2 separate regions of the Homo sapiens genome follow, and region 2 is linked to region 1. The links come from fine-mapping of genetic effects on gene expression. Tissue or cell type: whole blood. Region 1 holds a variant in brackets; the other region holds the start of a gene. Each region is shown on its reference strand, or each on the opposite one.

Region 1 (15,526 bases):
AGGAGACGTAACGGAATAGTAGGGAGAGATGCATAATTTAGAATACCAGTTGATAAATGACTTAATTGTGGCTAGAAATCAAAATACTGGGAAGGGCATATTATTAACCATTAAGTTACTTGATGAGTAGGGACTGTTTTTTTTTGTGTGGTTTTTTTTTTTGAGACAGAGTCTCACTCTGTTGCTCAGGCTGGAGGGCAGTGGCACAATCTTGGTTCACTGCAATCTCCATCTCACAGGTTCAGTTGATTCTCCTGCCTCAGCCTCTCAAGTAGCTGGGATTACAGGCACCCGCCACCATGCCCAACTAATTTTTGTATTTTTAATAGAGATGGAGTTTCACCATTTTGGCCAGTCTAGTCTCTTGACCAGCTTGAACTCCTGACCTCAGGTGATCCATCCCCCTCGGCCTCCCAAAGTGCTGGGATTACAGGTGTGAGCCACCGAGCCCAGCCTTTTTTTGGTTTTTTGAGACAGAGTTTGGCTCTTGTTGCCCAGGCAGGAGTGCAATGGCACAATCTCGGCTCACTGCAACCTCTGCCTCCTGGGTTCAAGCGATTCTCCTGCTTCAGCCTCCCTAGTAGCCAGTATCACAGGCCTGCGCCACCACGCCTGGCTAATTTTTGTATTTTTAGTAGAGACAGGGTTTCACCATGTTGGCCTGGCTGGTCTCGAACTTCTGACCTCAGGTAATCCACCTGCCTCGGCCTCCCAAAGTGCTGGGATTACAGGCTTGAGCCACTGTGCCCAGTCGAGTATGAACTTCATGTCAGGAGAGATAAAGAATCTTGACATTTGGCTGGTCGCAGTGGCTCACGCCTGTAATTGGGAGGCAGAGGCGGGTGGATCACTTGAGGTCAGGTGTTTGAGCCCAGCCTGGCCAACATGGTGAAATCCCATCTCTACTAAAAATACAAAAAGTAGCCAGGCATGGTGGCTCACGCCTGTAGTCCCAGCTACTTGGGAGGCTGAGGCAGGAGAATCGTGTGAACCCGAGAGGTGGAGGTTGCAGTGAGCCAAGATCGTGCCACTGCACTCCAGCCTAGGTAACAGAGCGAGATTCTGTCTCAAAAAAAACAAAACAGAACAAAACAAAAACTTGACATTTATCTAAGCCATGAAAAATCTGAGTGAACTATCCTTGTCCTAAACCTACATTATGCATCTCTGTCTACCAGATTCAGTGTCTCAATAATCGTTAGACAATTTTAGGTGAATAGTGTCCAATTTTTCTTTTTTTTCTTTTTTGAGACAGAGTTTCTCTCTTGTCGCCCAGGCTGCAGTGCAGTGGTGCGGTCTGGGCTCACTGCAACCTCTGCCTCCTGGGTTCAAGTGATTCTCCTGCCTCAGCCTCCCAAGTAGCTGGAATTACAGGCACTCACCACAATGCCCAGCTAATTTTTGTATTTTTTAGTAGAGATGGGGTTTCACCATGTTGGCAAGGCTGGTCTTGAACTCCTGATCTCAAGTGATGCACCCGCCTCTGCCTCCCAAAGTGGTGGGATTATAGGTGTGAGCCACTGCGCCTGGCCTAATAATGCTCAATGTTTCACCTTCTTTTTTGTCTTTATAGATTACATGCAGACTAGCTTCTTATGGAAATACGTTATTTCTTCTTAGTATAATCCAGGAATTTAGACTTCAACTTCATCCCAATTCTTGCACTTCATTAGTTTACAGTTTGTCTGTGACATCCATGCTTATGATTGGATTGTAGTGCTATTGGTTGTGCTTTGCTGAGAGACTTGATCCCTGCTGTTTTTTTTTTTTTTTTGAGACGGAGTCTCACTCTGTTGCCCAGGCTGGAGTGCAGTGGCGAGATCTGGGCTCACTGCAGCCTCCACCTCCCGGGGTCAATCGATTTTCCTACCTCAGCCTCCTGAGTAGCTGGGACTACAGGCGCCCTCCACCATGCCTGGCTAATTTTTGTATTTTTAGTAGAGACAGGGTTTCACCATACTGGACAGGCTGGTCTTGAAGTCCAGACTTCGTGATCCGCCTGCCTCAGCCTCCCAAAGTGCTGGGATTACAGGCATGAACCACTATGCCCAGCCTTTTTTTTTTGAAACAGAGTCTCACTCTGTCGCCATGCTGGAGTGCAGTGGCACAATCTCGGGGAGATTACAGTTGTGAGCCACTGTGCCTGGCCAGATCCCTGCTTTTTAAATACCTCTTTGGAGCAAGCCACACCCATATGTAAAAGGGTGTCTGTACCCCATTGATCCTGTGCACTTCATCTTCAGTATTCTTTTGCTCCAACTCCGGCTGGTGTGCCATCTTGGTTTAGCTGTTTTTCCTGCATTGATTCTTCTGCCTTTTCATCTTTCACGAGGATCAGTTACCCTGCCTTTCATGGACTGACACATTAGGGATGACCTTAAGGTAACTGATCTCTGTACTTTGGACTCTCCCCATGTAAACTGTGCCATGGCTGCATCGTTTCTGGCAAAACAAACTCCACCTCCTCCTTGAAGCTTGCTCAAGACTACTAGCTGGAAGCAAATTCTTCAAACTCTAAAAGCTCTTACTGACTGTGCTTTTACTAAAGCAGGATATATTTTATTTCCTCAACTAGATAATAAGCTGGTGAAAGTCAAAACCCATTTTATACTTCTCTACCCACCTCCTAGCCCCACACCACCCTTGCACCTTAAACAGAGAAGGTGCTGAATAAATACCTGCTGGGCCGGGCGCGGTGGCTCACGCCTGTAATCCCACCACTTTGGGAGGCCGAGGCGGGCGGATCACGAGATCAGGAGATCGAGACCATCCTGGATAACACGGTGAAACCTCGTCTCTACTGAAAATACGAAAAATTAGCCGGGCGTGGTGGCGGACGCCTGTAGTCCCAGCTACTCAGGAAGCTGAGGCAGGAGAATGGCGTGAACCCAGGAGGCGGAGCTTGCAGTGAGCCGAGATCGTGCCACTGCACTCCAGCCTGGGCGACAGAGTGAGACTCCTTCTCAAAAAAAAAAAAAAAAAAAAAAATACCAGCTGGATAAATAGGGTTAAGGATAGGAAGTGACTTTTTAGTATAAATTAATAGAGACTGTATCAGGAGGAAAGACATTCTCAGATATAACATTTTATGAAAGGATTTTGAACACTTTACCAAAACAATGCATATACCTGAAACACTCACACAAAAACTAGTATCTATTGTTTATAGTTTTGTGTTTATTTATTTATTTATTTTCATTTATTTTATTTTTTTTTGAGACAGAGTCTTGCTCCGTGGCCCAAGCTGGAGTGCAGTGGCGCGATCTCGGCTCACTGCAAGCTCTGCCTCCTGGGTTCAAGCGATTCTTCTGCCTCAGTCTCCCGAGTAGCTGGGACTACAGGCACGGGCCACCATGCCCAGCTAATTTTTGTATTTTTAGTAGAGATGGGGTTTCAGCATGTTTGCCAGGCTGGTCTCAAACTCCTGACCCCGTGATCTGCCCACCTCGGCCTCCCAAAGTGCTGGGATTATAGGTGTGAGCCACGGCACCTGGCCTGTTTATTTATTTTTTGAGACAGAGTGTTACTCTGTTGCCCAGACTGAAGTGCAGTGGTGTGATGTCAGCTCACTGCAACCTCCACCTCCTGGATTCAAGCAATTCTTGTGCCTCAGCCTCCTGAATAGCTGGGACCACAGGCCCGTGCTATCATGCCCGGCTAATTTTTGTATTTTTTGTAGAGATGGGGTTTCACCGTGTTGGCCAGGCTGGTCTCAAATTCCTGGCCTCAAGTTACGCACCTGCCTCAGCCTCCCAGTGTGCTGGGATTACAGGCATGAGCCACTGCACCTGGCCTATAGTTCTATTTATTAAAAGTCAGGTTTATTGGGGTATAATTTGTATTCAGTAAAATTTACCCTTGTAAGTAGTTCAGGTTCTTTTTTTTTTTGAGATGGAGTTTCGCCCTTGTTGCCACCACGCCCGGTAGAGATGAGGTTTCTCCATGTTGGTCAGGCTGGTCTTGAACTCCCCACCTCGCCCATCTCGGCCTCCCAAAGTGCTGGGATTACAGGCATGAGCTACCTCGCCTGGCTGTAAGTAGTTTAGTTTTACAAATTTTGAGAAATGTATATAGTTGTGTAGCCATCACCACAGTTGAGATGTTGATTATTACATCACCCCGCTGGCAGAGTGGTGCATGCCTGTAATCCCAGCTACTTGAGGGGCTGAGGGAGAAGGATCTCTTGAGTCCAGGAGTTTGAGGCTGCAGTGAGCTATGATTATGCCACTGCACTCTGGCCTGGGCAACAGAGCGAAACCCTGTCTCTGAATAAATAAATAAATAAGTAAATACAACAATTATGTCACCCCCCAAAATTCCTTTGTGCCCTTTGTAGTCAATCCTCTTCCTTTACCACCAGCCCACGGCAACCACTGATTTGTTTCCATAGCTTGCCTTTCCCTGAATGGTATACACATGGAATTATGAGGTAAGTGGCCTTTTGCATCTGGCTTCTTTCCCTTAGCATAATGCTTTCGAGACTCATCTATGTGGTTGCATGTATCTGTAGTTACTTTATTTTATTATTGAATGAGTCCGGAATACACAGCTGTGGCATAAAAATTATTTTGAGTAGAAGGCCATCTGAGTTCTTGAAATCTCTTATATCCCTGAAAGCAGAGCCTCCCAAAAGAATTCAGTTTTTGTAAATCCCTTCCCAGCAAAGCAACCAGGGACAATTGACTCTTATCACCACTAATGAGAAGTCACTTTCAACCAAGCAAGGTTTGAAGAAAAACAAAAGAAGAGAGAGAAGTCTGCACACCACATCTAAAAGGCATTGTTACAAAACTATCATATCTCCCATCTATTCTCCTAAAGCCCATTTGTCTTTCCAAAAAGTCATTTGTTTTCTCCTAAGTGCCCTTTTCCCTCTCTCCTTCCTCTATTAAGTTGGTATATAGGCCCAGATTCCAACTGCCCCGTGAATCACATTTTTTGATCAAATCTTTTATGTACATTTAATATATGATTAATTGTGTCTTTTCTGGGCTGGGAGCAGTGGCTCATGCCTGTAATCTCAGCACTTTGGGAGGCTGAGGCGGGCAGATAACCTGAGGTCAGGAGTTCAAGACCAGCTTGGCCAACATGGTGAAAGGCTCTCTACTAAAAATGCAAAAATTAGCTGGGTATGGTGCCGGGTGCCTGTAATCTCAGCTACTCCAGAGGCTGAGGCATGAGAATCACTTGAACCTAGGAGGAGGAGGTTGCAGTAGACTGAAATCGCGCCATTGTACTCCAGCCTTGGGGATAGAGAGACTCTGTCTCAAAAAAAAAAAAAAATTTGTCTTTTATGTTGCCAGTATGTCTTTTGTCAATTTGATTTGCATGCCGCCAATGATTAAACCTAAGAGGATAGGCCGGGAGCGGTGGCTCACGCCTGTAATCCCAGCACTTTGGGAGGCTGAGACAATGGGTGGATCGCCTGAGGTCTGGAGTTCGAGACCAGCCTGACCAACATCGAGAAACCCCGTCTCTACTAAAAATACAAAATTAGCCAGGTGTGGTGGCGTGTGCCTGTAATCCCAGCTACTCGGGAGGCTGAGGCAGGCAAATCGATTGAACCCGCAAGTGGAGATGCGGAGGTTGTGGTGAGCCAAGATCATGCCGTTGCATTTCAACCTGGGCAACAAGAGCAAAACTTCATCTCAAAAAACACAAAAAACACAAAAATTAGCTGGGCGTGGTGGTGTGCGCCTGTAGTCCCAGCTACTCAGGAGGCTGAGGCAGAAGAATCGCTTGAACATGGGAGGCAGAGGTTGTAGTGAACCAAGATCGCACCACTACACTCCAGCCTGGGTGACAGAGTGAGATTCTGTCTCAAAAAAAAAAAAAAAAAAAACAACCTAAGAGGATAGAGGAAAAGTTTTTCCTCCCCAACAATATCATTCTATTGAATGGGTAGATACAAATTTGCTTTTCATTCACAGTCTAGACTACTTTTAGGTTGTTTCTAGTTGTTAGACACCTCCCATTTGGGTCTTTAGGTACCACAGGTTTTCAGTTCTCTTGTGTAAATATCTAGGAATGTGATGACTGGATTATATGCTAAGTGTCTATAAGAAAATTCAAGTTTGCAAAAGTGTTGCATTTCCAAAGTTGTTAACAACAGTTTGCATTTCCATCAGCAATATTAGAGTCATAGGCTAGGCAGGCGGTTCACTCCTATAGTCCCAGCACTTTGGGAGGCCAAGGTGGGAGCATCACTTGAGCCCAGGAGTTCAAGACCAGCCTGAAAAATAGTGAGACTATGTCTCCACAAAAAAGAAATTTTAAAAAATTAGCTGGGTGTGGTAGGTCGTACATGTAGTCCCAGCTACTCGGGATGCTGAAGGGGGAGGATCGCTTGAGTCCAGGAGGCAGAGGTTTCAGTGAGCTGAGATCATGACACTGCACTCCAGCCTGGGTGATGCAGCAAGATCCTGTCTCAAGAGAGAAGAGGGAGAGAGAGGAAAAGAGAGAGAGAATTCCAGGTGCTCAGTATCTTTGTCGCATTGTTTTTTTTTTTTTTTTTTTTTGAGACGGCGTCTCGCTCTGTCGCCCAGACTGGAGTGCAGTGGTGCAATCTTGGCTCACTGCAACCTCCGTTTCCCAGGTTCACGCCATTCTCCTGCCTCAGACTCCCAAATGGCTGGGACTACAGGTGCCCACTAACACGCCTGGCTAATTTTTTGGTACTTTTTAGTAGAGACAGGGTTTCACCGTGTTAACCAGGAAGGTCTCGATCTCCTGACCTCGTGATCTGCCCGCCTCGCCCTCCCAAACTACTGGGATTACAGGTGGGAGCCACTGTGCCCGGCTGTAAAGTGCTGTGTTTCGATCTCAGCTTGCTACAACCTCCACCCCCTGGGCTCAAGTGATCTTCCCACCTCAGCCTCCCGAGTAGCTGAGATCACAGGTGCACACCACCACACCTAACTTTTTGTATTTTTGGTAGAGACAGGGTTTTGCCATGATGCCCAGGCTGGTTTTGAACTTCTGACCTCAAGTGATCTGCGCCCCTTGGCCTCCCAAAGTGCTGGAATTATAGGCATGAGAACCGCACCCAGCCCTTGTTGCATTTTATACTTAGCTTTTTAAACTTTTAGCCATTCTAGTAGGTTTAGTGATAATTTTTAGACAAACAAGGAAAATGTACAGGTTCATTAATCTAGGAAACATTTATGCATAAAGCCAGTGCCTGGCTTTAGCTTTGGGTTGATACACTTTGCCAGAAGTTTGATTTTATTTACTGTGTCAGGAATATCAGCATGTTGAGAACACACAACACAGTTTCTTGTCTCTAGACCCTCTCAGACAGATGAGAAAGACATGGGAAAGAAAACAGGCGCAAGAGTATACTTATGGCACTTTAGGAGTTCATGTGGGAAGGTTTTAACCTCTCCTTGGGAAGAAGGGAAAGGTTGCCAGAAGTTGTCTTCTGAGTCAAGTCCATATTCCTCTAAATTGATGATTAGCTTTGTAAATTAACATGTCAATGTTGGCTCTTGAGTGTTTTAAATGCCATGGAAGACAATAAGGGCTTCTGCTTCCCAAGCCAGAAGGTAATAAATCTTTTTTTTTTTTTTTCGAGACGTGGTCTTGCTGTGTCACCCAGCTGGAGTGCAGTGGTGTGATCCTGGCTCACTGCAGCCCCAATCTCCTGCACTCAAGCAATCCTCCTACCTCAGCCTCCCAAGTAGCTGGGACTACAGGCACACCTCACCACACCAGCTATTTTTAAAAAATTATTTTTACTAGAGATGAGGTCGCACTGTGTTGCCCAGGCTGGTCTCGAACTCTTGGGCTCAAGTGATCTTTCCACTTCGGGCTCCCTAAGTGCTGGGATTACAGGCGTGAACCACTGGGCCTGGCCCAGAAGGTAATTAATCTTAATATAAAAAGTAGGCTTCAGAGTTATGGAATTGCGGATCTGAAAAGTCCCCCTATCTCAAATATATACATCTCTAAAGCCATTGTACATAGTGGCCCATCAGGCCCCAAAGATTAAAAGATGTTTTCGGGAATAGGGCCAGGGTAGAGCAGAAAGAAGACTGGACAAAGTGTCTGAGAGACATGGAAAGAGCACCGGACTGGCTGGAAATTGAGTCATGGGTCCTACCTCCATCTGTGCCCTAACTACTTGTGCAAACCTGGACAAGCCAAAAGCTTGTAGGCCTGTCTCCTTTTACATATAAAACAAGAGCCTGCACCTCTAAGATCTCTTGCATTTGTGACATTTTGTGGCCTACATAACATTTGGAGGGAGAATTCTGGAAGGAAGGACAATGGTAAAGGCCAGAGAAGAGAGAGGCAGAGCAATGCAGTTGA[T/C]AGGCTATGTAACTTGTATTTAAACCCATCAAATGGAACGATACCTAAGGTTGAAACATTTTTTTTTTTTTTTGAGATGGAGTTCTGTTCTTGTTGCCCAGGCTGGAGTGCACTGGCACGATCTCTGCTCACGCAACCTCCGCCTCCCAGGTTCAAGCCATTCTCCCGCCTCAGCCTCTTAAGTAGCTGGGATTACAGGCGTGTGCCACCATGCCCAGCTCATTTTGTATTTTTAGTAGAGACAGGGTTTCTCTATGTTGGTCAGGCTGGTCTAGAACTCTCGACTTCAGGTGATCTGCCTGCCTCAGCCTCCCAAAGTGCTGGGATTACAGGCGTGAGCCACCGCACCTGGCCAAAACAGATTGTTAATGATCACCAAGGAATATCCAACCAGAGGCTGATGCGTGAAATCAGGAATGTGCTAGGAATACAATATGCAGAAGAGCAGGCAGGGAGATTTTCACCAGGAGGGTAGAACCCCAAGACCAGGGATCCAGGAGCATTAATTTATTTAACAGTAGTTATTAGGGAGATTCAAGGAGGCAGGCTCATGCTTAACATGAGGGAAGACTGTGATGGGTACTGAACGTTGGGTACCGACATGGGTAAGGATGGTCCCCACTTTGAGAGATTGTGATACCAAGCTAGGATTTTGTAACCATTCATCTAACTAATATTTGTTGAGCAACTAACGAGTTATAGGTGCTGGGGATAAAAAAATGTCTCTGCCTTTCTGGAGCTTAAGTTCCTAAGTAGGGTAAATAAATAAAAATACCTAGCATGTTAGTAATAAATGTTAGAGACAGAAACAGCAGGGAAGGGCATTAGGATTGGACGAAAATGGGAGCAGAAACAGCAGGGAAGGGCATTAGGATTGGACGAAAATGGGAGCGGGTTCCAAATGTGATCTAGGCTCCAAAAGAAGGCAGGAAGGAGCCCAGCTCAAGTCTCAAGTTCTCTTGTTCACCTCCTTCCCTTCTCAGCATGAAGGGAAAACCTCCCTGGCTCAAGCTGTTGATGCCTATAATGAGTAAGACACTATTCCAGTTATCAGAACCAGAACAAGAGGTCAGAGTCCAACCGGCAGCAAGAGTAGATGATGCTGGCTGGACTCGGTGGCTTACACAGGTAATCCCAGCACTTTGGGAGGCCGAGGCGGGTGGATCACCTCAGGTCAGGAGTTCGAGACTAGCCTGACCAACATAGTGAAACCCCATCTCTACTAAAATACAAAAATTAGCTGGGCGTCCTAGCGGGTGCCTGTAATCTCAGCTACTCGGGAGGCTGAGGCAGGAGAATTGCTTGAACCCAGGAGGCAGAGGTTCCAGTGAGCCAAGATCTTGCCACTGCATTCTAGCCTGGGCGACAGAGCAAGACTCCCAGGCGGGGTGGCTCACACCTGTAATCCTAGCACTTTGGGAGGCCCAGGCAGGTGGATCATCTGAGGTCAAGAGTTCAAGACCAGCCTGGCCAACATGGTGAAACACCATCTCTACTAAAAATACAAAAATTAGCCAGACAAGGTGGCACGTGCCTGTAATCCTAGCTACTCGGGAGGCTGAGGCAGGAGAATCACTTGAACCCGGGAGGTGGAGGTTGCAGTGAGCCGAGATCGCACCTTTGCATTCCAGCCTGGGTGACAGAGCAAGACTCCATGTCAAAAAAAAAAATAATATATATATATATATATAATTGGCCAGGTGTGGTGGCTCACGCCTGTAATCCCAGAACTTTGGGAAGCCGAGGCAGGCGGATCACCTGAGGTTGGGAGTTCGAGACCAGCCTGACCAACATGGAGAAACCCCCGTCTCTAACTAAAAATACAAAATTAGCTTGGCGTGGTGGCACATGCCTGTAATCCCAGCTACTCGGGAGGCTGAGGCAGGAGAATTGCTTGAACCCGGGAGGCGGAGGTTGCGGTGAGCCGAGATCGTGCTATTGCACTCCAGCCTGGGCAAAAAGAGCCAAATTCTGTCTCAAAAAAAAAAAAAAAAAAAAAAAGAAAGAAATCTCTCTAGAGAAAATACTATTAAGAACATATGATAATTAAAATAAAAAAATTGATGAGTTAAATATGCAGGAAAAAAACCATATAAGAAAAGCAGAACTCATTCTCATTTCAGAGTTTTTATCTTGCAGAAGATCCTAAAGTTTGGATACAGCAAAGTAAAATACAGACTTTTGAAAAACAGTTAGGAATTCAAGTTCATAGCAACAGCTTCCCTCAAGAAAATTTTCAATTGATTTGTAATTTGGCCTATGAATTTGACCTGTGGCCTTCATGTCATGATAATTTGGGTCACTCTGAATATGCCATCCCTTGAACAAGGGCCTCTGCTAATTTTAAATGAATGCAGCTGCCCATTCGCCATTCTTCTATTTGCATCACAATATGTGGGAATAAATTTGCAATTAATAAGACATTTCCAGTAAGCAGTCAGATTGAGGAAATGAAGGACATTTAGTAAGTTTAACAAGAGACATTTCATTTTTGCCTTTTTGGACCTAAAAAAGGGAAAGAAAACAAGTTTATGTCTTTGACAACCTTGGTAGAGGCCTGAATTGTACCCTGGGCTACAGCATCTAAAAAAGCCATGTGACCTCAAACTTGATTTTAGTTAAACAAATAAAATATATATAGAAAAGTTTGTACCAGTCCTAAAAATGTCGATCTTCCTTTCCTCCCTCCCTCCCTCCCTTCCTTCCTGTCTCTTTGGTTCAATGAAAATGAATACTTTTCAGGTTTGATTCATGGAGAGGTGTTACATTTGAAATTGCCTCATTGAAACTTTTGGTGGTCGAGCACCTTAGGGTCTTCATTTCATCTTGCATCGGAGACTGCATTAATTAGTAATATATTGTCCAGATAGAGGGAAACAGAGGTCCTACGTGGGTATACCAGGAAATGAAGAGTCTGGAAGCCCTGCCCTAAGAGAAACAAATAAAGGAACTTCAAAGAGAAGGAAGTGAGGTACCCTGAGGAGAAGCTGGGATGTCTTAACAACTGCTTTGGGATTTTGAGCTTGCCCTTTTCACTGTGTAGAGTGTTCCTTGCCCTACTTTCCACCTGTTGAAGTTTTCCTCATTCTCCAAGGTCAGACTGAATACATCTACTGTGAAAAGTTTCTAGAACCTCTTGGGATCCATCTTCCTACTGGCAAACCCCCATAGCACTTGCTACTTATGTTGTAATACCAAGCAATAGTCAGACTTATCTAGGTCAAGTTAAGTAGGGGCTTGAACGCCACACTAAGGGGTTTAAGCTTTAAGCTTGTAGTCATGGGGAGCCACTATGCTTCTGAGGACAGGTGTGACTTACGACTGACGTTTAGGAAGGTATCAAAGGCAGACTGAGAAGCTCTTTCAGGTGTGAAAGGGGGTGGAATTACTCTCTCTCTGTTCTTTTTTGTTGTTTTTGTTTTTGTTAGCACATGACTATGGGCTAGGCATTCCGCTTGGTTATCCCGCTTCATAGACGTGAGCCCGGTTACTCCGACACACCGTGGCCCCAGGCAGCCTCCCCGTCCTCACCACCTTTTCTTCTGTCATCTGAGGGTAATTCCTCCCCTGCAGTCGTGCTTTCCGGGCTCAGCAATGACCTGCTACCTGCCACGTCTAGGGATCTGTCCCCTCAGTCCTCACGCTCACGCTTTCTGAGTCCATAACCTCCTTCCTGAAACGTTTTCTTCTCACTTCTCCCAAACTGACTGCATTCCCCCTCCGGTAGTTTGAAATTTGGAAGACTTTTTTTTTTTTTTTTTTTTTTTACCGCAGACGCTTAAAACGAAGCTTAATTAGTCAAGGACAGCTATGGGTGGAGACTTGAAGAGATCTGAAGGGTATCTTGGAGCGCTTTAGACTTGAGAGGCCGGTGACAATAGCTCTAAAGAGACCCGTCAAAGCCTGCGGATTCTTCTTTTAACAGCTCTATTCTCATGCATGCACGCCAGGGCTGGGGGGAACTTTTGTTGTTTGTTTGTAATAGAAATCGAGAAAGGGAGTGGGGCCCGCCTCTTTTCTGACCTAAGGGCAGGAGTGAGGGGCCGGGAGGATTACGGGCGGCTCCCCCTAGACGCGCCCCCAGGCGAGCTGGAGACTGGGGCACTCCTTGCTTGGTAGAGGGGCGGGGCGCGCCTAGCGGCCACGCGCGCGGGCGTCGGAGGGGGCGTGTCTCGCGGGCGCGCGCGGGCGTCGGAGGGGGCGTGTCCCGCGGGCGGTGGCGGCGGCGGCGGCGCGGACTGGGTGCGCGGCGCAGCGTCCTGTGTTGGAATGTGCGGCTGCCGCGAGCTCGCGGCGCAGCAGCGGAGCGAGCGCCGCCGAGGCCCGGGGCCCCAGACCCTGGCGGCGGCTGCCGCAGCCGAGACGGCAGGGCGAGGCCCGGAGGCCTGAGCACCCTCTGCAGCCCCACTCCTGGGCCTTCTTGGTCCACGACGGCCCCAGCACCCAACTTTACCACCCTCCCCCACCTCTCCCCCGAAACTCCAGCAACAAAGAAAAGTAGTCGGAGAAGGAGCGGCGACTCAGGGTCGCCCGCCCCTCCTCACCGAGGAAGGCCGGTAAGTGGGGCGCTGGGCTGGGGGCTCGGTCAGGGTGGGGGAGGGCCGCCCGGGCGGCGGCAGTGGCGGGACGGGGAGGGCGCGGAAGGACGCGGAGTCAGGCGCTGTCCAGGGCTGATTTGCAGATACTGTGGCTCCGGCGGCGGCGGCCCCGCCGGGCGGGGGCTGGCGGCCGAGCAGGATCGGGTTACACAGCAGCCGCCCGGGGGCTGGGGGCGTTTGTTGGGAGCAGCGCGTCGCCTGGACCCCCTCCCCACTGGAGGCTGGGACGCCGCCTCCGCGCTGGCCCGGACGCTCCACCGAGTCAGGTCCTTTGAGGCCAAGGAGCGGAGCTGCTCGGGCCCGTAGTCCTGAAACTTCCTCTGCTTCCTCCTCCTGCCCCCGGGTCCCACCGCAGCCCCGCGCCGGCCCGCGGCCCTCCTGGCCCCCTCCCCCAGGGCCTCTCCCTGTCGCCGGAAGGCGCCGTTGAGTGCGGCCGGGCGGGTTGAGTCAGCCCCGGGGCCCGGGCGGTTCCGCCTGCGGGGCTGGACAGCGATTTCTGCGCTTCAGCCGTCCGGCGCCGCTGGCCCCCGCGTCCGGCCACCCGACCGCTGGAGCTGGCGGGGCTGGGGCGCGCGTCCTGCCGGGCGCCGTGGGGGAGTGAAGTTCGCAAACTTCCGGGGCGCGGGGGTGGCGGCTGGCCCGTGTGGGGGCCCCCTCCGGCGCTCGGAGCCCGACGCCTCGCGAGGGCGCCCGCGGAGCCTCCCCGGCCCTGGGCGTTGGGCGAGCCCCGGGGCGGTCGGAGGGGCCCGGGGGCGGTCGGAGAAGCCCGGACGCCGGCTGCGCGGTAACTTTCCGTCCTCTCCCGGGACGGGGGCCCTAGGGCTGGGGAGGGGGCTGCCTGGACTCGGGGAGGACTGGTTCCGGCCAAACAGCGCCTCGAGCTTGATCCCCTCCCCCGTTTTAGTGTTGGAGAGCGCAGGAAAAGGCTCAGGACGAGTGTCGGGGCGACTCCCGCGAGTTGGTGTGTAAATGTGTGCAGTGAGCGGGCCGAGGCGAGAGGAAGCGAGAGCGCCCGAGTTTGCAAAGAGCTGCTTTGTGTTTGGTATTTTGAGAAAATGGCCGAATGCCTATTTCAGTTAGGAATGCCGCCGCCGAGGCAGGCGCTGGTGGCAGCAGCACGGAGGAATTCGTGCAGCACGTTGGGCTTTCGGGCTGTGCCTGGACGGTCTTCCTAACAATCGTTAAAATTCCATTTGGGGTGGCAGTTAGGGGTTAGGGAGCAATTAGAAAAGTCGATGTTGGGCCAAATTACCCAATAGCTTGGGCTGTTCAGCCCCGGGACAGCCTTCGCCCTCTGTTTTCTGTGATGGCATTTGCTTCCAACTTTTGTTGGTACGTAGAACTAAACCGGTTTGTGTTTATACACTTGGGTGAAGCGGGTTACTTTTTGTATTTTCGGTTTAACTTTATTTTCTTAGAACTTCTTACTTTTTTTAATTTGCGAGTGAACACTTCGTTTGAGAATGGCACCTTTTAGATTGAGAAGTAACGTAGCATCTAGAAAGCCCAACTTGTTTTGAAGAAGGTGATCTTGTAATGGCTTCCACTAGGCAAGTAGGCCAAGTCAAGCACAATGCAAGAAAGTTGCTGATTGTCGAGTTGAGTTGCACGATGATTTTATTCGTATTGAAAAGCTTGGAATTCAGTGTTGTGGAACTTCAGCCTGCAGAAAAATAAGCTTATTAATTTTTATTTGTGAAGTTTTGAATAAATCAAACTTCCTTTTTCACAAGAAAAGGGGTCCATAAATGTTTTTTCTTTTAAGCCTGTGGAGTTGTCGAAAAATTAAGGGGCTGACTGCTACTTTTTCACAGTAGTTTATTCTTTTGGAGTTAGTTGAGTTCATGCGAAATCCAATTAAGTTGAACAATTATTACAGGCTTGTACTTTCCAGATGTGTTTGTGTACTTAATAAATGCACTGAATGGCTTGTGGATTTCTGGGCTTTCTGATTCAGACCATTGAACTGTTGAAGGGGGGAAAAGTTGGGAGGACAATAATTTACTACTCATGTTTTGAATTTTTAAAATAATTTTAACAGTAAAAATGAAGGTTACTTTTTATCCCCACCAGAACAATTAAAAGTGCTTGAGGAGGCACCACATGCCAGTGGCTGAATGATGAATGAGTTGTGCAAACAATTGGTAGAATTGTTTTATAGGGATAGTAGAAATTTTTTTTTGGTGATTGCAGTAGACTATTGGGAATTAACAACTATTTTAAAGATTTGTTTTTAATAGGCGATGAAGTTTACTGAGTTATAAAGATCATACTGGAAAATTTTTAAGTTATGAAGAATTACAGCGATGTGGTTTTAAGCCAGTAACAGTAGTGTTTAAACTGGTGCTCTTGTTTTGTTTTGTTTTTAATTCAGAATACAGTTATGGCCACCCAGGTAATGGGGCAGTCTTCTGGAGGAGGAGGGCTGTTTACCAGCAGTGGCAACATTGGAATGGCCCTGCCTAACGACATGTATGACTTGCATGACCTTTCCAAAGCTGAACTGGCCGCACCTCAGCTTATTATGCTGGCAAATGTGGCCTTAACTGGGGAAGTAAATGGCAGCTGCTGTGATTACCTGGTCGGTGAAGAAAGACAGATGGCAGAACTGATGCCGG
Region 2 (15,526 bases), not on the chromosome of region 1:
CAAAAAATTAGCTGGGCGTGGTGGCGGGCGCCTGTAGTCCCAGCTACTCGGGAGACTGAGGCAGGAGAATGGCGTGAACCCGGGAGGCGGAGCTTGCAGTGAGCCGAGATCGTGCCACTGCACTCCAGCCTGGGCGACTGAGCAAGATTCCATCCCATAAAAAAAAAACAAAACAAAACAAAAAAAACAGAATGCCCAGTTAAATGTAAATTTCAGATAAAAAATAATTTTTTAGTTTATGTCCGAATAATGTCTGTGTCATACTTATGCTAAAAATTATTTTTTGTTTTTTTGAAATTCAAATTTAACTAAAGTGTCTTGTCTTTATGTGGCAATTCTAGTTTAGGTTTATTTACAGGAGTTCTCCACCTTCTGTCTAATCCATGCTTATAGAACATCTACCAGGCATGTGTGAGACATGACAACAGGAAGCAAGTGTAGCTCCTGCATTTAGAGGTGAGTTTGAAAAAAGACATGTTGACACACAAGAAAATGTAGGAAGCATGGGATAGTGGAAGAAGTCTGGATTTTGGTGTTGACTTTAAGTTCAAGCTCCACTTCTGATGTTCACTAGCTGTGTTATCTTAGGTAAGTTATTAACCTCTCTGGGCCTCTGTTGTTTATGTGTGGAAATAAGAATAATACCAACCTCTGGCTGGGCGTGGTGGCTCACACCTGTAATCCCAGCACTTTGGGAGGCCGAGGCAGGTGGATCACCTGAGGTCAGGTGTTCAAGACCAGCCTGGCCAATATGGTGAAACCTCTTCTCTACAAAAAAATACAAAAATTAGCCGGGTGTGGTGGTGGGCGCCTGTAATCCCAGCTACTCGGGAGTTTGAGGCAGGAGAATAGCTTGAACCCAGGAGGCAGAGGTTGCAGTGAGCCGAGATCGCACCACTGCACTCTAGCCTGGGCAACAGAGCAAGACTCCATCTCAAAAAATAAAAAAAGGAAGGAATAATACTAACCTCAGAAGGTGACCAAGGAGGTTATAAGAAATTGTATGTATCTCATGCCTGGCTGCCATAGGATCTGAATATATGCTAGTTTTATAAAATAACTACCAGGCCAGGCACGGTGGCTCACGCCTGTAATCCCGCACTTTGAGAGGCCAAGGAGGGCAGATCACCTGAAGCCAGGAGTTCGAGACCAGCCTGACTAACATGGTGAAACCCCGTCTCTACTATTTTTGTAAAAATACAAAAAAGCCGGGCATGGTGGCATGCGCCTGTAATCCCAGCTACTAAGGAGGCTGAGGCAGGAGAATCGCTTGAAGCTAGGAGGCGGAGGTTGCAGTGAGCTGAGATGGTGCCATTGCACTCCATCCTGAGCGACAGAATGAGACTCTGTCTCAAATAATAATAATAATAATAATAATAATAATATATAATTATCATGAGAAAGAGACAACTAAAAGTGTCAGCCATGGTAACAATTAACTTTACCTCCTTTGGGAGACTGTCTACAATGAATGTAACACTTCACTTTTATTTTATTATATTATTATTATTATTATTTGAGATGGGGTCTCACTGTGTTGAACAGGTTGGTCTTAAACTCCTGACCTCAAGCGATCCTCCAATCTCAGCCTCCCAAAATGCTGGGATTACAGGCGTAAGCTGCTGCACCTGGCCCACACTTCACTTTTAAATAGAAATAATAGCTAATACCATGTATTGAATGCCCACACCATTGCCCTAAGTATCTAATAAACATGATCTCATTTAATCCTTATATTAACTCTCCAAGGTATTTACTATTATTGTCCCCAATTTACAGATGGAGAAACTGAGTTAAATAGCTTGCCACAGAGCAAGTAAGTGGTAGATTTAGTGTGTTCACTCGAGTCCAACTCCCCAACCAATGTTCCTAACCTCTATCTTACACTACCTTTGCATGGATTGGCCCTTGAAGTTTGAGTTGGTGACCACTATGAAGAGAAGCACAGATTGTGGCTACAGAGCATCTGGAACAGCAGATGGAGATGCAGAAGCTGGGAGGGGTGAAAGAATAGTTCTGGGGCCCTGAGTTGCTCGGCATTCTGGAAACAGCAGGTCATTAATGTTCACAGGTGTGTCTTAAGACCTTTGCAAGTTCTCAGTTTCCACACTAGCTTCTATATAGAAGGTATAACTGGGGCGGAGAGGGGGGATCAAGTAGTGATCCTACTGAATGACCCTTACGAAAGTTTTGTTAGTGTTGATAGTCACCATTTATTGGATATTTATCCATCAGGCAGTGCCAGGCATTTTTCACACATTATCTCATTTAACCATCACAACTACAGATGAGAAAAACCAAGGCCAAGGTCACATAGCTAGGAAGTGTTGGACCCAGTGCTTGTGTAACTCCAGCAGGGAGGAGGGTTGATGCACTCTCTAAATAAGGGCTCATTCATTTCAAGGCATGTAATTAAAATTCATTCCTCAGCAAAATTGTGTATGACTTACATAGGTCTCTTGTAAACATTCAAAACCATGTCAAAGGTTTCCTGTATTGTGGGAATCAGTCTTATTTCAGTGCCCTGTTCCACTTCTAGCTAGTTTCAAATGAATAATGAATGCAGTTGGTAACAATTACCAACTTTACAGCACCTTCCTGTCTCCACCTCACAGCCGGGGCAGGGCAGGCTTGCTTGCTCCAATCTAAACTCTAGCCCCGCAACTCACAGAGTTAATCCACCCTCTTAGACTCCTCTGGTTTGCCCACTTACCTTGGGGAAAGTGCAGAAGGATCAGATTTTTTTCAACTTGCTTGGGTGATTTTACTCCAAGATGTTAAGAATGCAAAGTACAAGGTGCTAAGAATACAAAGGTAGATAAGATATGGTCTTTGAGTGTGAGGCCCTCCTATGGGGAAACATGGGGATAAGCATAATAACTGAAGGCAAAGGGGAACCATAACAAAGAATGGACCCGGTACCAAGGAGAAAGAGCAAGTAGGGGCCGGACGCGGTGGCTCACGCCTGTAATCCCAGCACTTTGGGAGGCTGAGGCGGGAGGATCACGAGGTCAGGAGTTTAAGACCATCCTAACCAATATGGTGAAAGCCCATCTCTACCAAAAATATAAAAATTAGCCGGGCGTGGTGGTGCACACCTGTAGTCCCAGCTACTCGGGAGGCTGAAGCAGGAGAATCGCTCGAACCCAGGAGGTGGAGGTTGCAGTGAGCCAAGATTGTGCCACTGCACTCCAGCCTGGGCGACAGAGCGAGACTCTGTCTCAAAAAGAAAAAAGAAAAAAGAAAGAGCAAGTCGGTTCTCTGGGGGAGGCCCATGACCATGCCACCAAGTTGGTGACACAAAAGCTGGTCTTGGAGAATGAGTCCAAGTTTGCCTGATGAAGGGAAAGGAAGGGCAACCCTGCAAGGCAGGCTCAGCCACAAAACAAAACCACTTGCTTGGCCAACTGCAAGAACTATAAAAGTTGGAGTAGGGGATAGGGTACAAAAGGAGTAGAAGGTGAAGGGGAAATGGTTGGTAGGGGCCAGATTGTAGTAGAGCTTGTCCACCATGTGAAGATGTCTGAAGTTTTATATCCTTTAAGCCAATGTTTCTCAAACTTTTCCACTTAAAGTACCCCAAGGCAGTGGATAACACAGGCATGGGAATAGAGGGCAGCCCATGTTGAGCTCAAACTCTCTTTAAAGGTCTTGTCTTTGAAATCATGTGATTCTTATATTCTACTCCATCTTATGTCTGTTTGTTTTAATATAAAAATGTTTACCTTAATAAATAAATAAAAATACATTTAAAATTAAAATAAGATAAATATTTTCTGAATCTCTAAATAAAATTTAAAGATTACGTTTAAAGATGTATTTATTATAAATAAAATTCAAGAGGTCAGGCCTGGTGGCTGACACCTGTTATCCAGTGTTTTTCGAGACCCAGACAGGAGGGTCGCTTGAGCCCAGGAGTTCAAGGGTGCAGTGAGCCATGATCACACCACTGCACTCCAGCCTGGGCAACAGAGCAAGACCCTACTTCAAAAAAACAAATGAGGGCCAGGCACAGTGGCTCGTGCCTGTAATCCCAGCACTTTGGGAGGCCAAGGTGGGAGGATAACTTGAGGTCAGGAATTCGAGACCAGCCTGGCCAACATGGTGAAACCCCATCTCTACCAAAAAATACAAAAATTAGCTGGGCGTGGTGGCTCACACATGTAGTCACAGTTACTTGGGAGGCTGAGGTGGGAAAATTGCTTGAACTCGGGAGGCAGAGGCTGCAGTGAGCCAAGATCGCACCACTGCATGACAGCCTGGGTCAAAAAAAAAAAAAAAATGAGGAAGATAATCTATTCTATATTTCTTCCGCCCTGTTTCCTTACATGAATCCCCCATCCCGGAAGTTGCTTCAGCAGGTCTGAGGACAGCCATAGGGATTTAAGCAGGATAGTTATGTGATAAGATTTATTTCTAGAAAGAGCCTTCTGACAATGGTGTAAAGAATGGATTGGAGATGAGAGAGGCTGAAGGCAGAGAGAGCAGGCGGGAAGCTCTGCAGTAACCCAGGCAAGAGATGGTAAAGGTGAAGCAGATAAAGAAGGGAAGAGTTTTGAGAGGCATTTAAGAAGTGGAGGCCAGGCACGGTGGCTCACGCCTGTAATCCTAGCACTTTGGGAGGCCAAGGTGGGTGGATCACTTGAGCTTGGGAGTTCTAGACCAGCTGGGAAACATGGTGAAACCCTGTCTCTACTAAAAACACAAAAATTAGCTGGCATGTGCCACATGCCTATGGTCTCAGCTATGTAGGAGGCTGAGGTGGGAGGATCACTGGAGCTCAGGAAGTCTAGGCTACAGTGAGCTATGATCACACCACTGCACTCCAGCCTGGGTGACAGAGCAAGACCCTGTCTCAAAGACAACAACAACAAGTGGAATTAGGGTCAGGCCCTGGGCTTACATCTGTAATCCCAACACTTTGGGAGGCCAAGGCTGGAGGATTGCTTGAGCCCAGGAGTTTGAGACCAGGCTGGGCAGCATAGCGAGACCTCATCTCTACAAAAAAAAAGAATCTAAAAGAAAATTAGCCAGGTGTGGTGGCACACCCCTGTGGTCCCAGCTACTTGGGAAGCTGAGGTGGGAGGATTGTTTGAGCCCAGCATGTCAAGGCTGTAGGTGAGCCGTGATCACGCCACTGTACTCCAGCTTGGGCAACAGAGCAAGACCCTGTCTTAAACAAACAAACAAGCTAAAGAAGTGGAATTAACAGTATTAGAAAACTGTCCTGGGGCTGGGTGTGGTGGGTGGCTCAAGCCATTAATCCCAGCACTTTGGGAGGCCGAGGCAGGTGGATCACATGAAGTCAGGAGTTTGAGACCAGCCTGGCCAACATGGCGAAATCCTGTCTCTACTAAAAATACAAAAATTAGCCAGGTGTGGTGGTGCATGCCTGTAGTTCCAGCTACTCGGGAGGCTGAGGCGTGAGAATCGTTTGAACTTGGGAGGTGGAAGTTGCAGTGAGCTGAGATCGTGCCACTGCACTCCAGCCTGGGTGACAGAGCAAGACTCTGGCCCAAAATAATAATAACAATAACAATAATAATAATTTGCAAATCATATATTATCTGATAAGGGATTTATATCCAGAATATATAGAGAAATCCTAAAACTCAACAACAATAAACAAACGGTCCGATTCAAAAATGGACAAAGGACTTGACTAGACATTCGTGCAAAGAAATTACACAAATGATCTATAAGCACTAAGACAACATAAAAAGTCGTCCAGCAAGCACCCTGCTGTTTAAGTTTCAGCCACCTTCTGACTCACACCTTGAGCTAGAACCATCCAACTGCGGGCTTTCTGAATTCCCATCCCACAGAAATAGAGATAACGAAATGGTTGTTGCTTTAAACCACTGAATTGGAGTGATTCATTTTGTAGCAATAGTTAATGGCACATAGTAAAATGTTAATATGTAGAGAATCTGGGTGAAGGGTATATAGGAACTCTTTGTAGAATGGTCCTCTACCTTGTGTATGACAAAGGGGTGGGGTTACAAGGATCATAGCTTCTTCTCAGGATTACTCAGGACAGTCTACACCACCCAAGTCTATACCTGTAACAATGAAGCTGAGCTGGAACTTCAGAATGGGAAAGCAAGATAAACTGAGCGTGCGACTTCCCTATTGCCTTGGTGACACCCAGATACCCTGCAGATGCAGTTAGAAACAGCTCCAGTTGTCCAACTCTGTGGCTAGAAAAAAGTGTAGCCTGGGTTTTTACTCTCCTAACCCCTTGATTTGTTTTGGGAATTATTGTCTACAAAGAGCTCTCTCCTTTCTGATAATTGCTTTAGGTGGAAGAAGAGAGGATATGCTGTGTCCCCTCTCTTTTCTTACTTACTCTATTTGTAACTTTCTTCTTTTTTCCCCAAGAAAATGGGCTTAGTTGGGGTGCTTTGGCACCAATAGTCCTGCGGCGGAATCTGTGGGAGCTAGACAGGGAGATTTGGAAGAGAATGCTAGGTTGTGAGCTCTTGCTTTTGAGTTGTTTGAAGAGAATGCTGCATCTCTGGCATGTCAACAAGCCCAGCAGAATCCAGTAACGTTCACCAAGAAGGCTTGATTAGAGCTGGTTAGGGGATGATCAGGATGGTTAGGTGTGAAGAGCTTACGCTGATTATGGAGGGTATGGGAGTCACGGGGTTGGTACCCAGTGAGGAAATTTACCTTAGTAGAAACATTTGGGATAGTGTAGAAGAGAGAAGAGCTAGAGGCGAGGATTCAGGAAATAGAGAATGCCAGAGTCTCAATTAACAGGATGGAAAGCTAAGGAGATGAAAGACTTATAATAGTAGCATAGTACTAAAAGACAAACTATGTGTAAAGGTATTAGAAATGGGGACTGGGACTCTGAGGCAGTTAGGCCAGAGAAAAGAAGAAGGAAAAGATTTGTCTTCATTTGATTCAATTACATAAGCATTTCTCAGAATCTGCTATGTGTCACATGCTGTGGTGGATGCTGAGGGAGCTGATGAAAAAGACAGAATTCCTGCCCACCAGGGTCACATAGTCTGGAGACACAGACACGTAAACAAATGACGATAGTGTAAGGTGTGTGTAAGAAAGGAGGAATGTACAGGGTTGGTACAAAGGTGACCTCAAGGCATCCATGGGAATCAGGGCTGAGGGAGGAAGAGCCAGAAGACATCAGCACAAAGAGAACCAAGATGCTGAAGTCACAGGGGGAAAGAACATACTGGAGCCCCGGGCAGAGCAGTGCTGGACAAGGACAGCAAGTGTGGAGAGGAAAGGGAGATCCAGAAGAACCGAGGAGATCCATAACAGCATGCTTGGAGGAGGAAATTCGGGAAAACGAATGGACATGTCAGAGGGAGCTAGTTATGAGGAAGTGGACTGCAAACCAGATAGTGAGCAAGATGAAGAAATGAGGTGTTTATCCTTGCAATGGGAGAGAGACAATAAGGCTGACAAAAACTCAAGTGGTCTGTGGATAGACGATTTCGTTAGCTCGATTTAAGGGTAAAGGGCACACTCTCTGGTAGGAGATGAAAGGGGATGTTTAAAACAGGTAGAAAAAAATTGGGCCGGGCGCGGTGTCTCACGCCTGTAATCCCACCACTTTGGGAAGCCGAGGCAGGTGGATCACCTGAGGTTAGGAGTTCGAGACCAGCCTGGCCGACATGATGAAACCCCTGTCTCTACTAATAATACAAAAACTTTGCCAGGCATTGTGGCGCACGCCTGTAATCCCAGCTACTCGGGAGGCTGAGGCAGGAGAATTGCTTGAACCCAGGAGGCAGAGGTTGCAGTGAGCCAAGATCGCGCCAGTGCACTCTAGCCTGGGCGACAAGAGTGAAACTCCGTCCCAAAAAAAAAGAAAAAAAAATGAATTTGGGAATTAGAGAAAAAGACTGTGATTGGAACCCACACACCAAGAGAGGAGATAAAACCCAGCCTTAGCTCTTCCATGTCGCTGAAAGAGAAGAAAACGTCTCTTTTTCCTTTTCCGTAGCCATAAAAGATGAAAATCCGTCATCCAGCTACTGAAATCAGGTGCACACGGTTGTTCCTCCTGTGATGAGACAGGGCGGAGGGATTGTTACCCTGTTGCCAGGGAAAAAGGAAGGGGCTGTTCCCAGTTGCTATGGTGACGAGGTAGGCGCGTTCCCTCGGTACCGCCGCACACGTCTGAAGCGGTCTCTTCTCCTCGTTGCTACGGCAACGCAGTGGGCCTGTTCCTGTCGCCCCCCGCCTCCCGCCGCAATCGCTAAGGCAAGGTGGAGGTAGGGGCTGTCCTCCCGCGGCTCAGTTGCCTTGGAGACGGCGGGTGCCCTGGCCCCGCCCCGCTCGGACTGACAGCGGCGGCCGCATCGCGCCTGCGCAGTGCCCTCGTCCCCCGCAGTCTCTGTGCGTTGAAGCCGGAGACCGCGGCGGCCTCAGCGAGGACCCTCCGCCCCGGAGCCGCCGGCCGGAGCCGCAGCCTCTGCCGCAGCGCCCCCGCCACCTGTCCCCTCCCCCTCCGCCTCCGCCGGAGCCGCCTCGTGCACTGTGAGTCCGGGCCGAGGCGACGGACGCCGTGGGGCTGAGTCAGCGGGAGGCCAGGGCCCGGGCTGGGGGAGGGGAACCGGGCTCCCCCCGCCCCTGCCTCCCCACCCGCACTCCCGCATCCCGACCGCGCCTTCCCCGCGCCGGTCAACCCCCTCCATCCCTGTCGCCGGGTTCCCTCCGGCCTTGGCGGCCCGGCCTCCCCAGCCACTCCCCCTCCCCTTCCCTCCCCTCCCCTTCCCTCCGTCTCTCCGGGTCCACCTTGAGGCTCCTTCCCCACTAGACGTGGCCACCGCACCTCTGCCCTGGGCTGATATTTTCTCCAAACTACCTCCCGTCCGCCCTTATCCCTTCTCCCTCCTCCTCACTCCTCCTAGGCCTGACATCTCCCGGCCTCTCTGGATCTCCCCAGTGATGTGCCAGAAAAAGAGTGACAGGAGAGCGAGGGGAGACTTGGGGGAGGGGGAACATCGGGCCAGGCCCAGCCTGGGGGCCTCGGGTTTCTTCCCCACACGCTCCTGCCTGGCTGGTTTGGGGAAGCAGGTCTGGACAGTTCTCACTGGCTGCTCAGAGCTTGCAGGGCTTTCCGAATAGATTTGGCTGGGAAGGGTTCAGCCCCATCGTGATCATCTAGCGTTTAATGAACGCGGCTAGTGCCTGGTGGCCTTCTAGTGGGCTGAGCTACTGCCCGGCCGGTGTTGCGGAGCGGGGAGTAGAAGTAGTGGAGGGAAGGGAGAAGAGGTTGCGTTTGGGAGCTCCAAGTTCCTGCGCTTCCGGTGTGGTGTTGTGAATAAGCATCTTGCGGAACTCTTTAAAATGCTTTTTTTTTTTTTTAAATCGCACTACAACCCTGGTATAATGTGAGGTTTGGAAAAAGGCCTGATACCATCCATAGGAAGTGCTTACTGTTTATATATGAAGGGGCTGTGGCAGGACTTGATCTTGGATTCCTGTAAATTAACTAATTGGATAGTAGTGAGTTTTTAACATAACGTGTGCAGAGTTGAGAGGAAGGAGAAAAATCGAAGCTTCTCCATGGTGTAGGTGTGAGGCCTGTACACTGTGCCTCCTCCAGCTGTGTGTCTTTGTGGGGCTGTCACCAGATAGGGGTTCTAGCATATTTGGACAATTCCCTGGGTTATGTTTGCTACCCCTCCACCTGCCCATCTTGCAGTCCCTGTTCTTGGAATAGAAGAGGGTCCCAAACAGTTTTCTTTTTCCAGAAGAACTGAGTTGAAGTCAGAGTTAGTGCCCAGAGCCAGAAACTCTTAATAAACATGTCTCAACTTGAGGGCCCCTAACTACTATATGACCTCATTGTCAGCTTCTTTTTTATTTGGCTTCCAAATTTCAGTGTGCTTTTAGAAAGCACGTGTAAATATAAGCCAGATCTACCGCACAAGAGGCTTTGGGATTTTTACTCCAGATGGTAAAAGGAACGCATGGTCCATTTCTAAAAATCATGGTGAAGGAGCCACTCATTTGGAGTTTCCGGGGTTGCAAACAATGAGAAATAACTATTTCACTCTTTACTTTGCTCAATCATGGCCTATTGGCAGCCTCCTCATAGCCACTCCCTGCCCCCATGCCCATCAGATTAGTTTACAGTAGCCAAGACGGCTGTCGCCCTAGTTTTAAACATAGAGATGAAGTTCAGGAAAACTATAGCCCCCATCCAGCAGGGCAGTTTCTTCTGTTTCGAATGCCAGACTGGGGTTTGGTGGGATGCACCTGCCTGTGGTGCAGTGGGAACTGTGGGGCCTGAGAGTGGCATTCCTTCTGTGTGGTCCTGTGTCACATAGCTCACCAAAATACCCGAGCAGGGCAGGAGCAGACAGCTGTACTGGAGAGCTGCTCCTCCTGGGCTGAGTGTATTTTGGGAATCAGCGATATTACTGGGGTGGAGGGTTGTGAATTAAGGAGGAAGAAAATGTGTCAAGGCTAGATAGATCAGGAGGGTGTAAGTAAAATGTTCCTTTCCAGTTTGCTATGGGATAGTACATTTTCAGAGGATCAGAGTAGTTTTTATATGGATTAATTTGCCTTTGAAATCCATACCAGTGTTTTATGAGATAATGATGGAATGCCTTTTAAACTGCTACTATGAGGAAACAGGACTAATACTTGTCTTATACATTGCCTATCCAGCTGTTGCTGAATGTAATTGTTAAGATCAAGGAGAGGGACATGATTTGAACCAAGTTAGACCTAAATCTATGTAATGGTATTGAGGTTTTGTAGGACTGTATTCTTGATTCTAAGACACACCAGCAATTTACCAATAGCTTTTAGGTAAAATAATCTAATGCTACCAGATCAAAATATATATGCTGATTCCAAGGTGCATCCTCATTTTAGAAACATTAAAACCCTCGGGAAATGGCAAGACTTGAGGGAGGGATTTGTGAATCTTGGAACTGAGAAAGAATGCTATTGATAGTATTCCTGTGTGATGATGCCGTTTCTGACCTACCGTCCTGAGAGTGCATGCATTGTGAAGCTGAGTTTCTTCTAGTCCTTCCTGCACGCCAGCACACATTGTGGGGTTGTATTTGTAAGATGACTGGCTGGAGTTAGGCATAGTAGGAGGCTATTGAACGGAGGAAAGTTCCCATATGAGAATCCAACCCAGGGTCTTAATGTGGTACTCTCCAGAAACTGAGCCAACTAACTGGCAGCAAACGTCTTATGAGCTATTCCTGAATTTAGCCGAGTAACATTTGTCAGAAGCCGAACAGAAAATATAGTTTTTTTTTTTTTTTTTTTGAGACGGAGTCTCGCTCTGTCGCCCAGGCCGGACTGCGGACTGCAGTGGCGCAATCTCGGCTCACTGCAAGCTCCGCTTCCCGGGGTTCACGCCATTCTCCTGCCTCAGCCTCCCGAGTAGCTGGGACTACAGGCGCCCGCCACCGCGCCCGGCTAATTTTTTGTATTTTTAGTAGAGACGGGGTTTCACCTTGTTAGCCAGGATGGTCTCCATCTCCTGACCTCATGATCCACCCGCCTCGGCCTCCCAAAGTGCTGGGACTACAGGCGTGAGCCACCGCGCCTGGCCAGAAAATATAGTTTTTTAAAACAGAATGCATCTGCCCTGATTTGCTTACAGATACATTTGTAAAGGTCCCAAGGCACATGTCTCCCTCGCTTAGGATGTTAGCACTGGAGGTGACCCCAGATGGTATAGTTTAATGCCCTCATTTCTAAAGTTGACACAAGACACCAAGAGTTAAATGACTTACCTAAGGTCACCCAACCCATGCAGAACGTATGTAAAAACACTTTGTAAACTGTGTACACTAGGCAGATGAATGTTGGTGGTTATTAGTGGCTGAGTCAGGATTAGATCTCCAGATTTCCAGACTAGAGTTATTCTTCAACACCACATTGCCTCATCCCTCATAATGTTCCAAAGGGTTTTAATAAAAATAATTTAGTAGTCCGTAATTAGCCCTGTAGGCAAGGGCTTGTTTTGTCATCTGAGATGCTGCACAGCCAGGCAAAATTTTGTGTCAAACTGTCTAACTAAATATTTATTCTTGCCACTTTAAAAATAATATTTTTTATCACACATTCTGACTTCAGGAAGGTCTTTCTTTTTTTAATTTGCATCAACTAACAGAAAAGCAAATGTGAAGTTGGGTATTTGAAGTCTTTTCTACTTCTTATCTGTGAGACTGCCGCATTCCAGAAAGCAAGGTGGAGAGGCAGATGGGGCTGAGAGGAGGAGCGTGCACATTGGGCAGCTGCGGGCTTATCTTCCACCTCTCAGAATGGAACCTTTTGTAGTTTCTGGGAGCCATAAGGACTTCTAAACCCTCTCCTTGGGAAGCGCGGAGGCAGCCTGACCTCTGGAAGCAGGCAGACTTGAGTTCAGATCCCCATCCAGCCATCTCCTGGCTGTGTGGCCTTGGGTGAGTTATGTTACCTCTGAATGCCAGTTTCCTCATTTATAACCCTGGAATAATAACTATCTGTTTTACAGGGTTGTTGTGAAGATTAAATGAAAGGGAGTATGTAGAGTGCTTGCTTCATAAGAAATAGCAATGATTATTTTATATTGACTAAAGCATAAAATAGCAAATAATGGTTTCAAAATTGTTTCGTGATTTAGGTCCATCTTGGACTCTCAGTTTTGTAGCCCCCATCTCTCAGCACCCCTCTCGGTATTTGACACGAACAGAGAAAAGGTTTGTACCGGGAAGACCCGGCACTTGCATTATTATTTCAACTGCCAAAACCGGAGTATATGAAATGTATCTTTGCTCCATGTATTCAGCCAACCTGAAAGACTGGCAGGACAGGAGCATTTGACTTTAGGAGGCACAGATGTGGTGTGCTTGGGTGTGTGGTGGGGGTGGCTAGTTCTCCAGCAGGGAGGCCAGTCTGGGGAGTGGTCTTCATTTGAAATAGAAAAGCTGCTGAGCTCTTGCTTGTGAGGGACACACATGTGGTCTTTATTGACTTCCTCAACTGGTAGAGGCATAGATTTCATCGGTGACTTTGCTAAAATCAGCTTCTGCATCCGTGAGATCCAGGGGGCAAGGGAAAGGAGCTATTCATCTTAAGAGGGAAACCTTGCCAGTGAGCAGAGGTAAAGGGAGGTCATTTTGGATGGAGAGAATTACAGACTGGCTCAAGGCAGAAACTACTGAGTAATTAAAGAACCAGGGCAAGCTGTTCAGGTGCAAGAGCAAAAGTGAATTTAAATTCCTAGATAAATTTCAGTAGGGAAGGAAATACCCATGTATAGACATCTAAAGATTGAAAAGAAACGCAATAATGTTTACCTCTGGGAGGTGGGATTTGGGTGTGGGGAAGGGAAAAGGAGACTCAAAGGGGAACTTTTACTTTATATGTTTTTGTATTTGACTTGTTATAAGAAGCATGTATGCTTTAGTCATTTAATGAAGACCAAATAGAATGGGTAGTGATTGTTGTTCAGTAAATACATTTTGGTACAAAAGAAGCAGCTGCCTTTACTTGGAGCCTCCCATGCCTGGGGCAAATAGGGTTTGACAGCTTCAAGCAGGCCCAGGCAGTTTGCACCAAATCAAGCTCTTAAGTGAGGGCAGGACCCTCCAAAGTGGCTGCTTCCCGGTCAGCCCAGGGTACTTAACTGACCACCTACCCCATCAACTCTTCCTAGTCTTTTCACTCCCCTCTTGAGAATAGTCCCCTCCATCTGTTGACCAGCTAAAATAATCATAATTATTCTAATAAGCTAATTTTCAGCTATTGATGAAAATGGCATCTGACTATATGACCTTCATGAAAAATTCCTGCCTCTTAGTTAATGTCAAGAGGGCTTGAAGTTTAAAGGGACCCAAGCTGAAATGCTGGCACACTGTGTAGCTAAGTTCTAGGTCAGACCTGGCTGGTACAGCACATCTTTCACATAATGACTGATTAACTGCTTCTGGTAGGAATTACTGGTAAACTCTGATAAAATCCTTAAGGATTGTTCAGCTTTTAATTTTGTCGTAAGTTGGCCAGCTGTATTTTCTAGCCAGATGTCATGTTTATTATAGAAAGATGACACACCTATCATTTGGACATGTGCTTTGGGTTGCTTACCCAGGAGTTAGGATGGGTTATGCTGAGTAATTCACATTCCATCACCCAGTCTTCCCTTTGGCCAAGAGTACAATTTCGTGTGACAGTTAGCCAAGTTTCGTGAAGCATGCTGTGGCCACGGATGGTTTTTCTTGTGCACAGAGTTGACTGGCCAATACTAGCATAAGCCTAGATCTTGCACTCACTAGCACCATGCCCTACCAGCTTTGCTAAACTGACCAGATGTTGTTAGTCAACTTTTTAGCATAACGTCAGTGTTTTAGGCTCTGGATGCTTCATTTGCCTCAAGTAAATAAGGACTTGTCCTATCTAAAATGCTTTAACTCCATGCAAAATGATTTTTTCCCTGAAACTATTTCCTAGATATAGGAGATACATACCACTTGTGTGATACATTTAAAATAACTGAGCAAGAAGCATGGCTTCAAATCTGCCTTGTAGCTTGACTATATATAAAAAAGCTTAAAAGGATGTATATCCTTAGACCAGAAAGTGCCATTCTAGCAATATTTAGAAAATCAGAGGTGTGTACAGAAATAATTGTAAAAGATTTATTAATGCAACATTACTAGTAATATCAAACATTGAAAACAACCAAAAGTGCCAGCAACTGAGGATTGGTCAGGCTCGCCCAAATAAAATACTGCATGGCATTAAAAACATTTGGAGAAGAATATTAATACCAGAACTTTTAATATCAGTGAAAAAAGCAGGATGAAAAATAGTATGCCAAGGAAAAAACCATATTTATAAAGAAAAACATGAAAAAGATACTAGAAGAGCATGTGCCAAGTCATAAGTGATTGAGTAATGGGATTAAAAACGAATGGCTTTCCTTAGTGCTTGTTGGTGTTTTCTAAGCTTTTCTGCATTAAGCAACTATAACTTAATTATGACATTTTAAAACCAGTGACTTCTAGATTCCATGTAGTAGAGCAATCTTTAGAGTCTTCTTTGCCTCTTCCTTTTACTGTTTACATGTATCGGAAGGTTTTAGTAAAACCTTGTATACCACAGGGCTCTGTTTTGGGTGGCCTTCTTTTCCCAGGTGTCTTTTCAGATTCTCTGTATTCCCAGTTCTCCAGTGTTCCAGGGGCCTTTTTTGAGGGTTTTGCTCATTTTTTGGTGTGGATGTGCACCTGTCTGAATTGTCTGTTTCAAAAGACTCTGCCCAGGCCCACTACAGTTGCCTTCCTCCCTTTGCCCTTTGTCACCTTCCGTTCAGCCATGAGCTCAGAGGCCCTTTTTCCTTCCAGGGATAGAGAGGGTTGGGTGCCCACCTGTGGCCACCCGATGGGCAGAGCCCTATGTAGACATAGGCTAGGCCACTCCCCCTGTGCCACACCAGGTCCATGGAGCTGCTGACTGTGTTGGTAGGGCCTGGCCGGGCAGCTGTCCTCTGGCCTCATCTTTCCCATCCACACACACACACTGTACA

Evidence for each region. PIP is the estimated chance that this variant, and not a neighbour inherited with it, causes the effect.
Region 2: MAPRE3 starts here. The variant in region 1 is the best candidate, but not a certain one, in a credible set for the expression of MAPRE3 in whole blood (TOPMed, PIP 0.62).

Annotation. Positions count from the first base shown.
Region 1 is chr4:56,895,348-56,910,873 of GRCh38, forward strand. It overlaps REST (RE1 silencing transcription factor), which reads left to right and starts at 12,553. Exons shown (of 4, transcript NM_005612.5): 1 at 12,553-12,866; 2 at 15,283-15,526. The coding sequence starts at 15,292. RefSeq lists enhancers at 12,010-12,939, 13,870-14,799 and silencers at 12,036-12,330, 12,430-12,819, 12,930-13,779. The variant T/C (reference allele first, on the strand shown) is at 8,311.
Region 2 is chr2:26,962,286-26,977,811 of GRCh38, forward strand. MAPRE3 (microtubule associated protein RP/EB family member 3) reads left to right here and starts at 8,352. Exons shown (of 7, transcript NM_012326.4): 1 at 8,352-8,517. It overlaps LOC124905979 (a long non-coding RNA gene), which reads right to left and starts at 2,787. Exons shown (of 3, transcript XR_007086251.1): 1 at 2,714-2,787. RefSeq lists a silencer at 8,237-8,566.